Homo sapiens: one gene and its partners. The protein of the gene in region 4 purifies or fractionates together with the protein of the main gene of each other region. This does not show direct contact. Each region holds a gene or a part of one and is shown on either strand. Other genes may lie near its edges.

What was found. Proteins that work in one complex are often made in the same cells at the same time.
Region 1: the proteins of SLC35A2 (region 4) and TMED6 purify together in Homo sapiens (affinity purification with mass spectrometry; one large-scale study listed by BioGRID and IntAct). This does not show direct contact.
Region 2: the proteins of SLC35A2 (region 4) and ATP2B1 purify together in Homo sapiens (affinity purification with mass spectrometry; one large-scale study listed by BioGRID and IntAct). This does not show direct contact.
Region 3: the proteins of SLC35A2 (region 4) and ATP2B3 purify together in Homo sapiens (affinity purification with mass spectrometry; one large-scale study listed by BioGRID and IntAct). This does not show direct contact.

The regions. Positions count from the first base shown.
Region 1 is NC_000016.10:69,345,769-69,348,786, forward strand, and holds part of TMED6 (transmembrane emp24 domain-containing protein 6 precursor), read right to left. Parts: intron 2,169-3,018; coding exon 2,020-2,168; intron 1-2,019.
Region 2 is NC_000012.12:89,590,694-89,593,838, forward strand, and holds part of ATP2B1 (plasma membrane calcium-transporting ATPase 1), read right to left. Parts: intron 603-3,145; coding exon 291-602; 3' UTR 1-290. UniProt on the Homo sapiens protein: Catalyzes the hydrolysis of ATP coupled with the transport of calcium from the cytoplasm to the extracellular space thereby maintaining intracellular calcium homeostasis.
Region 3 is NC_000023.11:153,548,642-153,552,141, reverse strand, and holds part of ATP2B3 (plasma membrane calcium-transporting ATPase 3), read right to left. Parts: coding exon 3,288-3,500; intron 2,646-3,287; coding exon 2,403-2,645; intron 2,098-2,402; coding exon 1,856-2,097; intron 1-1,855. UniProt on the Homo sapiens protein: ATP-driven Ca(2+) ion pump involved in the maintenance of basal intracellular Ca(2+) levels at the presynaptic terminals. Uses ATP as an energy source to transport cytosolic Ca(2+) ions across the plasma membrane to the extracellular compartment.
Region 4 is NC_000023.11:48,908,847-48,913,002, forward strand, and holds the start of SLC35A2 (UDP-galactose translocator), read right to left. Parts: upstream 2,801-4,156; 5' UTR 2,791-2,800; coding exon 2,700-2,790; coding exon of another isoform or gene 2,661-2,699; intron 1,472-2,660; coding exon of another isoform or gene 1,388-1,471; intron 1,151-1,387; coding exon 968-1,150; intron 1-967. UniProt on the Homo sapiens protein: Transports uridine diphosphate galactose (UDP-galactose) from the cytosol into the Golgi apparatus, functioning as an antiporter that exchanges UDP-galactose for UMP.

The sequences.
Region 1 (3,018 bases), on a different chromosome or scaffold from region 4:
CCTGGGTTCAAGCAATTCTACCTAAGCCTCCCGAGTGGCTGGGACCACAAGTATGTGCCACCACACCCGGGTCATTTAAAAAGTTGTTTTGTTTGTAGAGACAGGGTCTTACCATGTTTCCCAGGCTAGTCTCAAACTCCTGGGCTCAAGCTATCCTACCTCAGCCTCACAAAGTGCTGGGATTACAGGTGTTGGGCCAACTGGCCTGGCCTAAAATGGGCAAAGGACTCGAACAGACATTTCTCCAAAGAAGAGAGATGGCCAATACGCACGTGAAAAGATGCTCAACATTATTAATCATTAGGGAAATGCAACTCAAAACCACAAGATAACATTTCACACCCACTAGGATGACTGTAACAAAAAATAAGTGTTGATGAGGAAGTAGAGAAATTAGAACCTTCATACACTGCTAGCAAGAGTTTAAAATGGTTTAGCCACTGTGGTAAACAGTCTCCAGTAATTCCACTTTCAGGTATACACAGATGAAAACATGCTAACACAAAAACTTGCATGCAAATGTCCATAGCCACGTTATGATAGCCAAGAGGTGGAAAAACCTAAATATCCATCATGTCCATTAACTGATGAATGGATAAATAAAATGTGTATCCATAAAAGAGAGTATTATTCAGCCATAAAAAGAAAAGTACTGATACATGCTACAACATGGATGAACGTTGAGAACATGCTAAATTAAAGAAGCCAGTCTTGGCTGGGCGCGGTGGCTCATACCTGTAATCCCAGCACTTTGGGAGGCCGAGGCGGGCCAATCACCTGAGGTCAGGAATTTGAGACCAGCTTGGCCAACATGGTGAAACCCTGTCTCTACTAAAAATGCAAAAATTAGCCGGGCATGGTGAGAGGTGCCTGTAATCCCAGCTACTTGGGAGGAGGAGAATCACTTGAACCCTGGAGGCAGAGGTTGCAGTGAGCTGAGGTTGCGCCATTGCACTCCAGCCTGGACAACGAGCAAAACTCCGTCTCAAAAAATAATAAAAATAAGCCAGTCACAAAATCCCATGTACTGTGTGATTCCATTTAAATAAAGTGTATAGAGGCCAGCCACAGTGGCTCAAAGTGCTGATTAATCTCGGCACAGTAGCTCATAATGCTGAGTAATCTCAGCTCAGTGGCTCAAAGTGCTGAATCTGAGCACTTTGGCAAGCCGAGGTGGGAGGATTGCTTGAGCGCAGGAGGTTGAGGCTGCAGTGAGCTGTGATCAAGCCACTGCACACTGCAGCCTGGACAAGAGTGAGACCCTGTCTCAAAAATTAAGTATAGAATAGGTAAATCTATAGAGACAGTAGAACAGTGATAGGCAGGCCTGGGGTAATAGAATGGAGAATGACTAATGGGGAGTGGGATTTTGAGGGTGGGGTGGGTGATAAACTTCCAGAATTAGATGCTGATAGTTGCACAGCCTTGTGAATATACTAAAAAACCACTGACTTACACACTTTTAGATGGTGTACGGTGTATGAATTATATCTCAATTTAAAGAAAAACAGGCAATGGGCCAGATTTGGCCTGTCAGCCATACATAGTTTGCCAACCCTTGGTATAAAACGAAGATGGAATTTCAAGAGCTTCAAGTCGTAATTTATTTTGAGACGGTGTCTTGCTGTATCCCAGACTGGAGTGTAGTGGCGTGATCTCGGCTTACTGCAACCTCTGCCTCCCAGGGTTCAAGCGATTCTCCTGCCTCAGCCTTCCGAGTAGCTGGGATTACAGGTGCGCACCACCACGCCCAGCTAATTTTTGTATTTTTAGTAGAGACAGGGTTTCACCATGTTGGAAAGGCTGGTTTCGAACTCCTGACCTCAGGTGATCCACCCACCTCGGCCTCCCAAAGTGCTGGGATTACAGGCGTGAGCCACCGTGCCCAGCCAAGTCATAATTTATGAAGAAATTCACATCCCCTTGCCTGTTTGGTTTCTACCTAAATGAAGTCATCTTCCCTCTGAAGTTAAAAATCAGTTTCCACAGATGTTTCTCTTCCACAAAACACTTCCTTACCTCAATTGCATCCAGAGTATCATTCAGTTGTTTTCTTTCCTTCTGTTTGTGATCAGTCTCAGGCCCCTCATAGAAGACCCCAAAGTTGAGGTACACTTGCACAGAACCGAAGTGATTATGCTGATTACTTAGACAAAGCTGATAAAAACCTGTAGGAATTCTTAGATCATTACCAAGTCTTTGGTCTCCTCCCCTTTGTTAAGGATTCCCTGGAGGTATCTGTCCTCTAGTTTTGGAATTCTACTACAGGACCTTCTTTTTACTTAGAAAGTACAAAGATCCCGTTTTTGACATGGAAGACACGGACCTTATGTTAAACTTATACTAAATATTACTTATTATATTTGGCCAAATTTTAGTAACTCGTTCTTTCCATACTGGGTAGTGGCAAACAATGTTTTCTCTTTAACATATAATTCCCACATCTTGTATTAAGGAACTCCTGCTCAACAGATTGAGTTGAAGTTAAGAGCATGGTGTTTGCCTGGTCCTTGTATACAATTAAAGCTAGGGACACCATCTTGAACTTGAAATTAGGAAAGACAAAAAAAAAAAATAGATGCATAGTGCATGAAAGCAGCTCTCCTGGAGTGATTGCCTCCAAGGCGGTGTGTACAGTGACTCATGGTTTGGTTATATCTGTTGGGGCTGGGGTTGCCTCCCTTTGTGTGTGCGGGGGGGAGGGGGGCGCGGGGTGGGGAGCGGGTGGGAAGGAGCAAGGTGGAGAGGACCGGTAGAAGATGGGTGGGGTGGGATTAGAAAGGTGTGGCAGTGTTTGAAAGTCAAAATGATTGGAAGGCACTACTGGCATGTAGGGGCCAAAGATGTTCAAGATCTTTTTTTTTTTTAGACGAGTCTCGCTCTGTTGCCCAGACCGGAGTGCAATGGCGCGCTCTCGGCCCACTGCAGTCTCTGCCTCCAGGTTCAAGCAATTCTCTTGCCTCAGCCTCCCAGGTAGCTGGGATTACAGGCGCCTGCCACCACACCCAGCTAATTTTT
Region 2 (3,145 bases), on a different chromosome or scaffold from region 4:
AATACACTGTTCAGGACCATGCTTGGGTACTACTGATGATCCACAGGTCACTTACGCTGAGTTACTGTTTATCTGTCAGTTCATTTCTCCCACCCCCCAAAAAGCACCCTCAGTCTGGCAGAAAGCTTTGCTTTTTTTTTTTTAAAAAAATAAATCTACATTCGTACAAGTGTGTCTTCTGTTGAAGTCCAAAGACAAGAATACTAGCTTGTCCATCACAATATGTGAAAAGACCCAGTTTCAATTTGTTTCTTTACAATGCAGCTAGTGTGTTAACATTCAGCTTACAATCAGAGTGATGTTTCCAAACTATGTAGTGGGCTTCCTGGGGATGAAGAGGTAGCAGACTTGTTCATTTCTATTGTAAGGTGAATTCCACTGTCAACAGCATTGTTATTTTTGTTGGGAGAGGGTGGAGGACTGGAGTTACGTTTTGTAGGAGCATCATCTTCGGCATCAGTGTCATCAATAAGGGGGATATGAGGCTCTGAATCTTCTATCCTAAACTCAGGATGTGTCATAAAGTTGTGAATCGAACTTCTTGATTCCGGTTTTTCTAACCCTTCATATAAAGAACTACGAAATGCATTCACCACTCGAATCTGTAAATATCAGAAAATACAGAAATATGTCAGTACACTATTAACAACTTAAAAATGGTTCATTTATGAGTTTGAATCCACAAACAGCTAGGTATGAGTGAATCATATTTGCATGTAATGCAGTGGAACTTGCAATACACTGTAAAAAAATGAATATTTTAGTAAGACACTACAGAACAACAAAACCACATACTCTAAGAATTAAGAGGTAAAGAATTCAAAGTAATATTAAGAAAATCTCATTGTCATTGGCTAAAAATTTAATAGCCATTTTATAGGATTTTTTCCCTAAAAGAACAAATCAAACACAAAACAAAACAAAAACTTAACCATACACAAGCTTAGCTGATTTTTTAAATTAAAAAGAATGTATTTTGAAAACAACTCAAATAAGTTAAACAAAATCAAGCACAAAGGGTTACTATTTATCATGCTAGGAATTAGGGTGTCACCGACCATGAAAAAGCCAAGCAAATATAAGCTGAATGCCACAATGAACTCACATCTACCCCACTACTCCCTTAATTAAAAACAAAAATAAGAACAAAACCCAAATAAATGTCTATAAAATGCCATTAAACAGCTATAAATATTTGAGTATATGCCATTTGTCTATCATTTGTCTATAAAGTTTTAGTGTTTTTCTCTGTAACAGATTAAAACTTAAATCAATTACTACAGTTATCTGGAAAGAATAGATCAAAAACAAAAACAAATCCTCTGGGATTCTTCTGTGAAAAATTTCCCAAGAAGACACAAAGTGTTAAAAGTTTTCTAGTATTTTCACCCCTAAGCAGATAGCTCAACAATTCATCTTCCTCTCAGTCTGCTGTATAAATGAAAAAGATTAGTGGGCAATCAAACTTAAAAACATCAGTGCACACACTGACATTAAGTGCTATTAACTCAAGCGTCATTCAGATTTAGAAAAAAAAGGACAAAATCCAACTAGTTGAGCATTTACTATGTATCAATTCAAATACAGTGTTTGCTTTTGCTTTGATTCTAATAAATCCTGTTTAGTAATAAAGACATCATTTACTCATTGTTAAGAGAAATAAATAACACTTTGACATTCTAGAAAAAAGATGCGGTCACCAAATTCATCTCTTTAGACAGCAATAATGAATAATACATTTCTTCAAATGAACATGTGAATGTGTTTAAAAAAATGTAATGTAGAGTTTAGGGCCATGCACCCACATCTCACCTTCAAGTTGTCTTTCCTTATTTGCCAAGCCCTATTTGTAAGCTGCTTTTAGTCCATATTCACTTAGCCCTTTATATAGAGAGTACAGCATAGTCAACTGAGAAATACAAAAGCAAAATGTCTGGGTGTAAATTCCAGCTCTGCCACTTACTACCTGAGGAACCTCGGTCAAACAGGTTTCTTCAACTATAAAATGGGAAATAGCAATGGTACTTGCCTTACGGGGTTGTTGTGGGAGATTAAATTCGTTAGCACACTACAAACTTAAAACAATGTTAGGTCACAAGTATCGAGGCCAGGGCTTCTCGAACTTTAATGTGCATACAAATTAGTTGGGGATCTTGTTAAAATGCAGATTCTGATTCAGCAGGGGCCTAAAGTCCTGCATTTCTAACAACCTCCAAGGTGATGCTAAAGCTGCTGGTCCATGATCCACACTTGGAGCAGCAAGCATCTATTCTATTAATGTCTTGCAGCTTTACCATCTTTTATAATTCCATTCTATTTGATTGCTTGTACTTCAGTTCCTTAATTTGACTGATGAATAGCAGCAAATATTTTTCAACTTCTTTTATTGCTCTTGTTCCTCTTCCCCTTTACTAAGATGTAAAGTGTTCTACATATGGAATGTAAACAATGTTTGCTAAATATAACGTTATAGTAATTCATTCAGTGTTTTATTGTGAAGTCTTAAAATTCACATTTTATACATGTGAACATTCAGCAAGTATCCTGACTGTCCTAATAACAAACTGTAAAGCTTAAAATGCAAAAAGATAACTTTCTAAAAAAAAATTTGTTGGTATCAGCAGCCCGTAGGCACGGAGGAGAATACAAATTAGAGGATCAGCCAGCAAACTTGATGGGTGATGAGAACTGTTCAAGACAACCCTGAAGATGTTGCTTATTTGATAAGGTTGCTGGTGCTGCTGCTACTGAAGATAGAACAACAGTTAAGCTTTCTGTGTATGTGTGTGTTTTCCATCTGTTTTTCTTTGTAATCAGTCGGTATAAAAGTGAGCAGTGAAGAATCGGGGGGAAATAAATGTACTTTTTAAACATGTTAAATTTGGAAAATATCTAGAGCTCAGAAGAAAAGTGTAAACTTAAGTTAGAGATTTGAGAGTTAGTGAAGCTCTAAGAGGGGCAGAGTGTAAAGGTGAGGGCAACAAGTATATGTGCACACACAATCACACACATACACCGGTGGCAGGCAAAGAAAGATTAAATCCCTTCTTAGCAAAACTTCAATTCTGAGAAGATTTTTCCTATCTGAATTTGTTGAACAATATTAGAGATTTTTTTTTTCTAACCACTTCATAAATAATAAAAC
Region 3 (3,500 bases), about 100 Mb from region 4:
AAAAAGAAGCACAGAAAGAGGGCTGAGGCCCCCACACCAGCAGGGATGGCTCCAGGGAGGAGGTGGTCCTGGCCCTGGCAGTGAGCGCTGCACCTGGCAGAGTTCTGGGAGAGCGCTGTGGGTGGGGCGGCCAGGCAGGGTGCACTTGGTGGTCCAGTCCGCAGAACACAGGAAGGAGCGTGGGCCTGGGCCTTTGGGGAGCCCTGGGCGTCCTGCAGAGGACCTTGCCCTGAGGGCCCTGGGACGGCAGTCATGAGGAGCGAGGTGACTTGTGGACAGAGACGCCAAGGCCAAGGGTGTGGAGTCCGGGAAGGCTGAGTGGGAGTGGGGAAGCCAGGGCATTTGGAGGTGACGCTGTGCACTCTCCCTTACTTTGTTCTAATAGCTTTATTGGGATATAATTCACGCACCACACAGTCCACCCATTTAAAGTAGATAATTCGATGGTTTTTAGTATAGTCACAGAGCTGCACGACCATCACCAGTCTCCAATTCCAGAAAATTTTCATCATCTCTAAGAAAATTTTCATCATCTCTAAGCAACAACAAGAAAATAGATCAACTGGACGTCATCACGATTTAAAACATTTGTGCACCTAAGGACACTATCAAGAGAGTGAAGACAGGCCACAGAATGGGACAGAATGTGTAGAAATCGCATAGCTGATAAGGATCTAGGATCCAGAATACAGAAAAAATGTTACAGCCCAACAATAAAAAGACAAACAACCCAACTCAGCAATGAGCAAAGGGCTAGGACAGACATTTCCCCAAGGAAGACAGGCAAATGGCCAGTCAGCACAGCAAAAGAGGCTCAGCGTTGTTAGTCATCAAGGAAACACAGATCAAAACCACCAGGAGATATTGCCTCACACCCACAAGGATGGCCCCCATCAGCATTGTCACACCAGAAAATAAGTGCTGTTGAAGATGGGGAGAAGGTGGAACCCTCCTATGTCGCTGGTGGGAATGTGAAACGGTGCTGCCCCTGTGGAAAACAGTTTCGTGGACACCACGACCCAGCCATTCCTCTCCTAGATGTCCACGCAAAAGAATTGAAAACATGGGTTCAAACAAAAACTTGTACGTGAATATTCACAGCAGCGTGACTCGTGACAGCCAAAAGGTGGAAACGACTCACGTGCTGGTAGACGTGCTGGTAGACAGATGAAGGGATGGATGGACCAACACAATGCTCTTTAGCATACAATGGATATTACTCAGCCTTAGAAAGAATGGAAGTTCGGGCTGGTGGCAGTGGCTCATTCCTGTAATCCTAGCACTTAGGGAGGCCGGGTGGGTGGATCGCTTGAGCCCAAGACTTCAAGACCACCCTGGGCAACATGAGGAGACCCCAGCTCTACAAAAAATTTGAAAATTCGCTGGGCGTGGTGGCATGCACATGTAATCCCAGCTACGGGGGACACTGACGTAGGAGGATGGCTTGAGGGAAAAAACAAAACAAAACAAAAAAAGAAAGGAAGGTCTAATATCTGAGGGAAACGGAAAAACTTTACACTAAGGAAAGAAGCCAGACACAAAAGGCCACACAGTGTATGAGTCCCTTGATAGGAAATGTCCAGACAGGCAAATCCATACAGACAGGAAGCACATGAGGCTGGGGAGGGGCGTGGGGAGGGCTGCTCATGGGCCTGGGGTTTCTTTCCGGGTTGATGGAGGTGTTTTGGAACTGGGTAGTGGTGACGGTTGCATGATATTGTGAACGTGCTTAATGCCATTCAACTGTACACTGTAAAGTGGTTGAAATGGTGAATTTTACGTTCGGCCTCTTTTACCACGACAATAGAATCAGAAACTCCGTGCGTACCCCGGCACCTCCCTGCTGCTCACTCACTTTTTCAAGAGGATCTCTGAGGCCCCCTTGCTGAAGAGGCGGAAGCCACCGTCGGGCATGCGGATGACTGTGCTCATGGACTTGCGGACCGAGTTGAAGGTGTACACTTTGTAAAGCTTGTCTTCCGGGATCTGCTCGCGCACGGGCTGGAAGTCCCGCTTCAGGTCCAAGACGAAGCCCAGCAGGGCGCACTCCGTCTTATTGCCCACCTGGCGTGGGAGGGCGCCTTCCTTCTCAGGAGGCTGCAAGATGACGAGGGCTAGCAGGCACTGGGGGCCTGAGACCACCCTCCATGCTGCCCCTGGAGCCCCAGCTCTGCCCCCTCGTGGTCACCACATTGTTAGGGTGTGGGCGGCAGGGAGCAGAGGAAGGTCGGCCTTAGCTACAGGCAGTTTCCCAGCCAGAGCCACCTGTGAGGCCAGGGATGGGCAAAAGTTCTCAAGGGGGGGCCTAATGAGCACCTTGCAACAGCTCACCTGGCACCCTGGCCAGGACCCTCCCCTGCTCCTGCCCCCGGCCCTGCCCGCCCGCTCCTGCCCCAGCTCACTAGTATTTTGGTGGTATAGGCACTGTTGATGGAGATGGCATGGACCAGGAGGTCGAGGATCTTAGGGGTCAGGGCGCTGGGGGCCGGAATCTCTTTGTAGTGGGTGTCTCCTAGGTAGGACTGGACCACGGTCATACGGTTGGTGGTGAGCGTGCCCGTCTTGTCGGAGCAGATGGCTGTGGCGTTGCCCATGGTCTCGCAGGCATCCAGGTGGCGCACCAGGTTGTTGTCTTTCATCATTTTCTGCAAAGGGCGAGGGTGTGGGCATTTGGCCCAGGTGCTTGTTGGGGTGGAGGAGTGAGAGATGTCAACACAAACATCGCGTGACTCTGTTCTGCTCAGCTAGCTCCACGTGTGGCACTAAGCCCACTGGGCACCTGGTCAGCCCTGAGCCAATAGCGAGGCTGTAAGGCATCAGCAACCTCATCCAATGGTGGGGGCGGGATGCGCACCCGGGACCTCCCCTGCCCGAGCCCCCTCTCAGTTACCCACCAGCCCTGCAGCTCTCCCACCCCACCACCCCACCACCCCACCACCCCACACCTGGCTCCCCCCACCTCCTCCCACTGCCTCCCAGTGTCCCGGGCCCTCTGCTGATTCTCCGCTTCCCCGCTGCCTCCCAGCCCCTCCGTCCTACTGCCCACATTGTGCAGATGCTGAACCCCTGGGTATCTCACCGCCTGCCTGCTTTCTGGCCCATCTCATGCCGAGGGACCTGAGCTGACAGATCAGCAAAGCTGCCCCCTGGGTCCCTGCTCGGCACCTCCTCTCCTCCCTTGAGCTATCCCAAACGTCCCCAGTTTATACTGCCACCAAGGCGCCCAATGACTTCTTACCCCAGTTTCCGAGTCTGTAAACAGTATCAACTGTAAGTTTTATGATTACCTTGACAGAGTAAGCTAAGGAGATGGTGACAGCAAGAGGCAGGCCCTCTGGGACAGCCACGACCAGCACAGTGACACCAATGATGAAGAACTTCACGAAGTATTGTACATAGACCGGCGTGCACTCTGCCAGCCATGTCCGGCCTTCCACGACAAACGTCTCAATCACAAAGTAGAGGACCAGGATGATGACGGTGATGGCAGACATCACCAG
Region 4 (4,156 bases):
ATCTCCATCCCTTTACTTATGCAAGACCTTTTTAGAGAAACAATTGGGCAACACTTCAAAGTAGAAGGCCTTCAGGGAGATGTTGAAATTAGCAGATAAACCCAACTTCCAATTTACAAGAGATGTAGAAGACAGAATACTTGTTAAATTTTTGAGAATATTTGCCTTAGGGAGGCAGTCAGCAAAATCCAGACTACCCAAAGTCTACAAAACAAATGACCTGTTTTCTCCAACAAATTAATTGCAAAGACCAAAAAACCCCTAGAGATTAACAGATTTAGAAGATACCAAACAAGGCCAGCCTGGTGGCTCACGCCTGTAATCCCAGCACTTTGGGAGGCTGAGGTGGGCGGATCACGAGGTCAGGAGTTCGAGACCATCCTGGCTAACATGGTGAAACCCCTTCTCTACTAAAAATACAAAAAAATTAGCTGGGCGTGGTGGCACGTGCCTGTAATCCCAGCTACATTTATTCAAGATAATTCAGGGGAATTTACTTCCATACAATATTACTTCGTGTGGGATTTACTTAAAAATAATAAGAGGATAAGGACGTAGGTAGACATATAGATTGGCAGTGAGTGAACAATCACTGATGTTGTTTAAAGCGGCCATGAGTTGCTAATTGCTGACTCTGGGGGATGGGTACATGGATATTTTACTATTTGATTATTCTCTCTGATTTTGCATGTATTCGGAATTCTCCATAATATGAAGCTAAATCACATGTGAGAGATCCCTGCTACTTTATAAGCATTGGCAATCTCACTCCTACAGCCCACACAGGCCGGCTACCCGGCTGTTAGGGCTAGAAAAGTGTAAGATGCCGCTACGCATAGCTGGAGTGGCGCTCCAGGCAGGTTGAGATTTGGAGACACTCCTGAAGCAAACCATCTGTGTGAACACACACACATACATGTGGAGTCTCACCCACCGACCCCAGTGCAGCCCCATCCCTGGTTCGTACCCCTCTTCTGTGCGAAGAGCAGCAGCAGGCAGGTGAGACCTTTGAGCACTTCCGCCATGACCACAGCAGTGGTGGCAAAGAAGCGGTCCCCTGGCAACGTGCGGGCGTAGCGGATGCTGAGGATGAGGGAGGCATTCTGGACCACCAGCACAGCTAGGGATATGTACTTCAGGCGCCTGTGAGCTGTGGGGAACGGAAGGGGCAAGGGGGAAGGACGGGGTCAGAAGCCGCTGGGGCATAGCCACACCACCACCCACCCCCTTTCTTTCTCACCCAGGACCCTCCTAGCCATGGCTACTTGCTCCCTCAGCCTGCCTGCCCTCACCCAATAAGGGTCTGACTCCTACCGGCTTACTGCCTCAGCCATGAGCAGGAAGAGCCAGAAGGGAGAAATGGGCCCCACCCTGTCCCAGTCCATACCTGGAATCCTTACTGAGGTGTCAGGTAATGGCTGAGGCAAACCCTGGCCACGCGCCTCGGCTTCCTCCCAAGTGAGAAGCAACTCTTCCCCAGAAAGAATACCGACAACTACATTCTCCACGTTTATTGAGTGTTTACTGTATGCCTATCACTGGGTTAAGGGATTTCTATGGATTACCTCAATAGACTCATATCACTGTCATCTCCAAAAGAACTGCGAGGATTCCCATTTATGGATTAGCAAACTGAGAATTTATATGAAATGATGCTCCTGTTTAATGAGGGACTGTCTCATGTAAAGAATAACACATCAATGCAGGGAATGAGGCCACTGTATGAGGTATGTTCACCCCCTAAGAACGGTCTTTCTCCTATCTAAGAAATGATTCGATTCCCTCACACTGAGAATGGCCTACATCCCATATGGAATGATCCTCCTCATACCCAGAATGGTCTCTCCAACCCCTCACTCCTGTGACAACTGGTTCCTCTCGAACCAGAATAGTCTACTAAATACAAGAAATGATTCCCACATGCTCCCAGGGACTGAATCCTGTATCAGGAATGGTTATCCCACCAAGAAAGGTCTGGCTCCCTCAACCAGATGAGGAAATACTTCCCTGCACTCCACATGGTCTGCCCTCCCACCACCGCACACGGACCCTCTAGCTAATGAATTTTTCCTTGCTCTACCCACACTCACAATGAGCTCTCTCTGCTATAAGGAAGGACCCGGCACTCTCAGAACGTTCTTTCTCCACCATATAACGATGAGCCCTCCCACCCGAATGTACAATGAACTCTACCTCCATTAGGAGGGAGCCCCCAGAACGGTCTCCTCCGCACATAATGAAAGACACCCCCATCCTCAAAATGGACCCTCTCTAGTCACATAAAGAAGGACTCGCCCCACCCTAACTCACAATAGTCTCTGTCCCTTTATAAGGAAGGAACCACCACCCTCAGAATAGTCTCCCCCTTCTTCAGTGAGGAACTCCCACACCCGCAGAATGGTCTCTTCCACACGGAAGGACTCCACATATTCAGAATGGTTTCGGTGGCCTTAGCCTTCCCAAAAAGAATTACCCACCACACTCACAATGGTCTCTACTCTCCATATGCGGAAGGATCCCACAATCACTCTCAGAATGTTCTCTTCCCCGCCCCCAACACACTGACAATGTGCACACACACACACACACACACGTCGGTCCACACGGGATGCTCCCTCTCACTTTAGTGAGGAACATTCCCGACTCCCAGCGATCCCGACCTCCGCCTCCCATGCGACTGCTCGGGCAGACTGTCTCACCCGCACTGGCGGTCCCCGGCTCCAATGCACCCGCGGAAACCGCCCCTGGCCCGGGCGCCGCGGTGGAACCACCAGCCCCAACCGCTGCCATGTTGGCATCTGCCCGGCCCGTCCCCTCGGCAACAGAAAAACCACTTCCGCGTTCGTCACTTCCGCTGCCGGGCCACCTGAGTGAAGGTGGAGCGAGAGCCGGGATCGTCAGGGTGGTGGCTTTTCTCCTCCGCTCCTAAAAGCTCAATGTATGAATAGCCCCGGGATTTCCAAATTCCGTCGGATCGGGAGGCCGGGGACACGGCCCGATCGGCCTACCCACCATCCCTACAGAGCTTCATCGGCCCATTCCTGTCACTAGACCCGCCTTATCCTGCCGTTCGTCCGCTTCACTGATCGCGCTTTCCAGATCATCCCCCGATCTTGTCTCCTAGACTCATTGGTTCAGCCACCCCTTTCATCTCGGCTCTTTATTGGCAGCTTCTCCATAAGGCGCCGCCCTTTCCGTATCAGAAACTACCAGGTGCTTCATGGTTGGACTGAAATTCCGCTTTCCCGTCTTCCAGAGAGGCCTCGCCCCCTGGAGAGCACACGGGAATCTGGGGACGAAGAAACTTTGACCTGGCGGGGTCGGGGTGAGGGCGTACTGGCATCAGGTGCGAGTCAGGAATGTTAAGCTAGCAGATAAAAGCAGAGCAGGTGAGGATAAACAAGTGAAAATGCAAAGGAAAGTTGACGCACATAAGGGAAGACAAGTGAGTCACCACTGAGGATGGCAAAGGGGACAGGCGAAAGGCTCACAGGTTAGCTAGCATTTGGAAGCAGGGCAAGAGTCCGGGCCAGAGGCGGTGGCTCACGCCTGTAATCCCAGCACTTTGGGAGGCTGAGCCGGGCGATCACCTGAGCTCAGGAGTTCCAGCCTGGGCAAAACGACAAAACCCCGTCTCAAATAAAAAAAAAAAATTACCCGGGCTTAGTGGTATGCACCTGTACCCAGCTACTCTGGAGGCTGAGGCAGGAGAACCGCTGGAACCCGGAAGGCGGAGTTTATACTGAACCGAGACAAATAAGCAGGGCAAGAGAGGGAACAACTCAGGTCGGAACAAGTGAAACCAACATGGAATAGGGTAGGCCAGGTAAGTCAAGTGTTGAAGGAGAAATTAGAGGGATGGGTATGTAAGGGTAAAGATGGGGGAAGAGGCTAAAGATAAAGAGCAAAACAGGTGACTACACCCTGGACAGATTCCAGTCAGCGCCCAACCCCAGCCCCGCCCTGGCCAGTACCCTGACAGGGCTTTTCTTCTGCAACAGGGGAAAGGGCTTCTTCATTCCCCTGGGGTGCCAGGGAAGGTAGTTTTTCTGCTTCTGAGATAGCCATCTTGATTGGGGATGTGCCCTAAACACCTTCAATATGCACAGTATCTCCAACAGAGAACCCTTCTGCACATACTGGGCACTGCATAAGA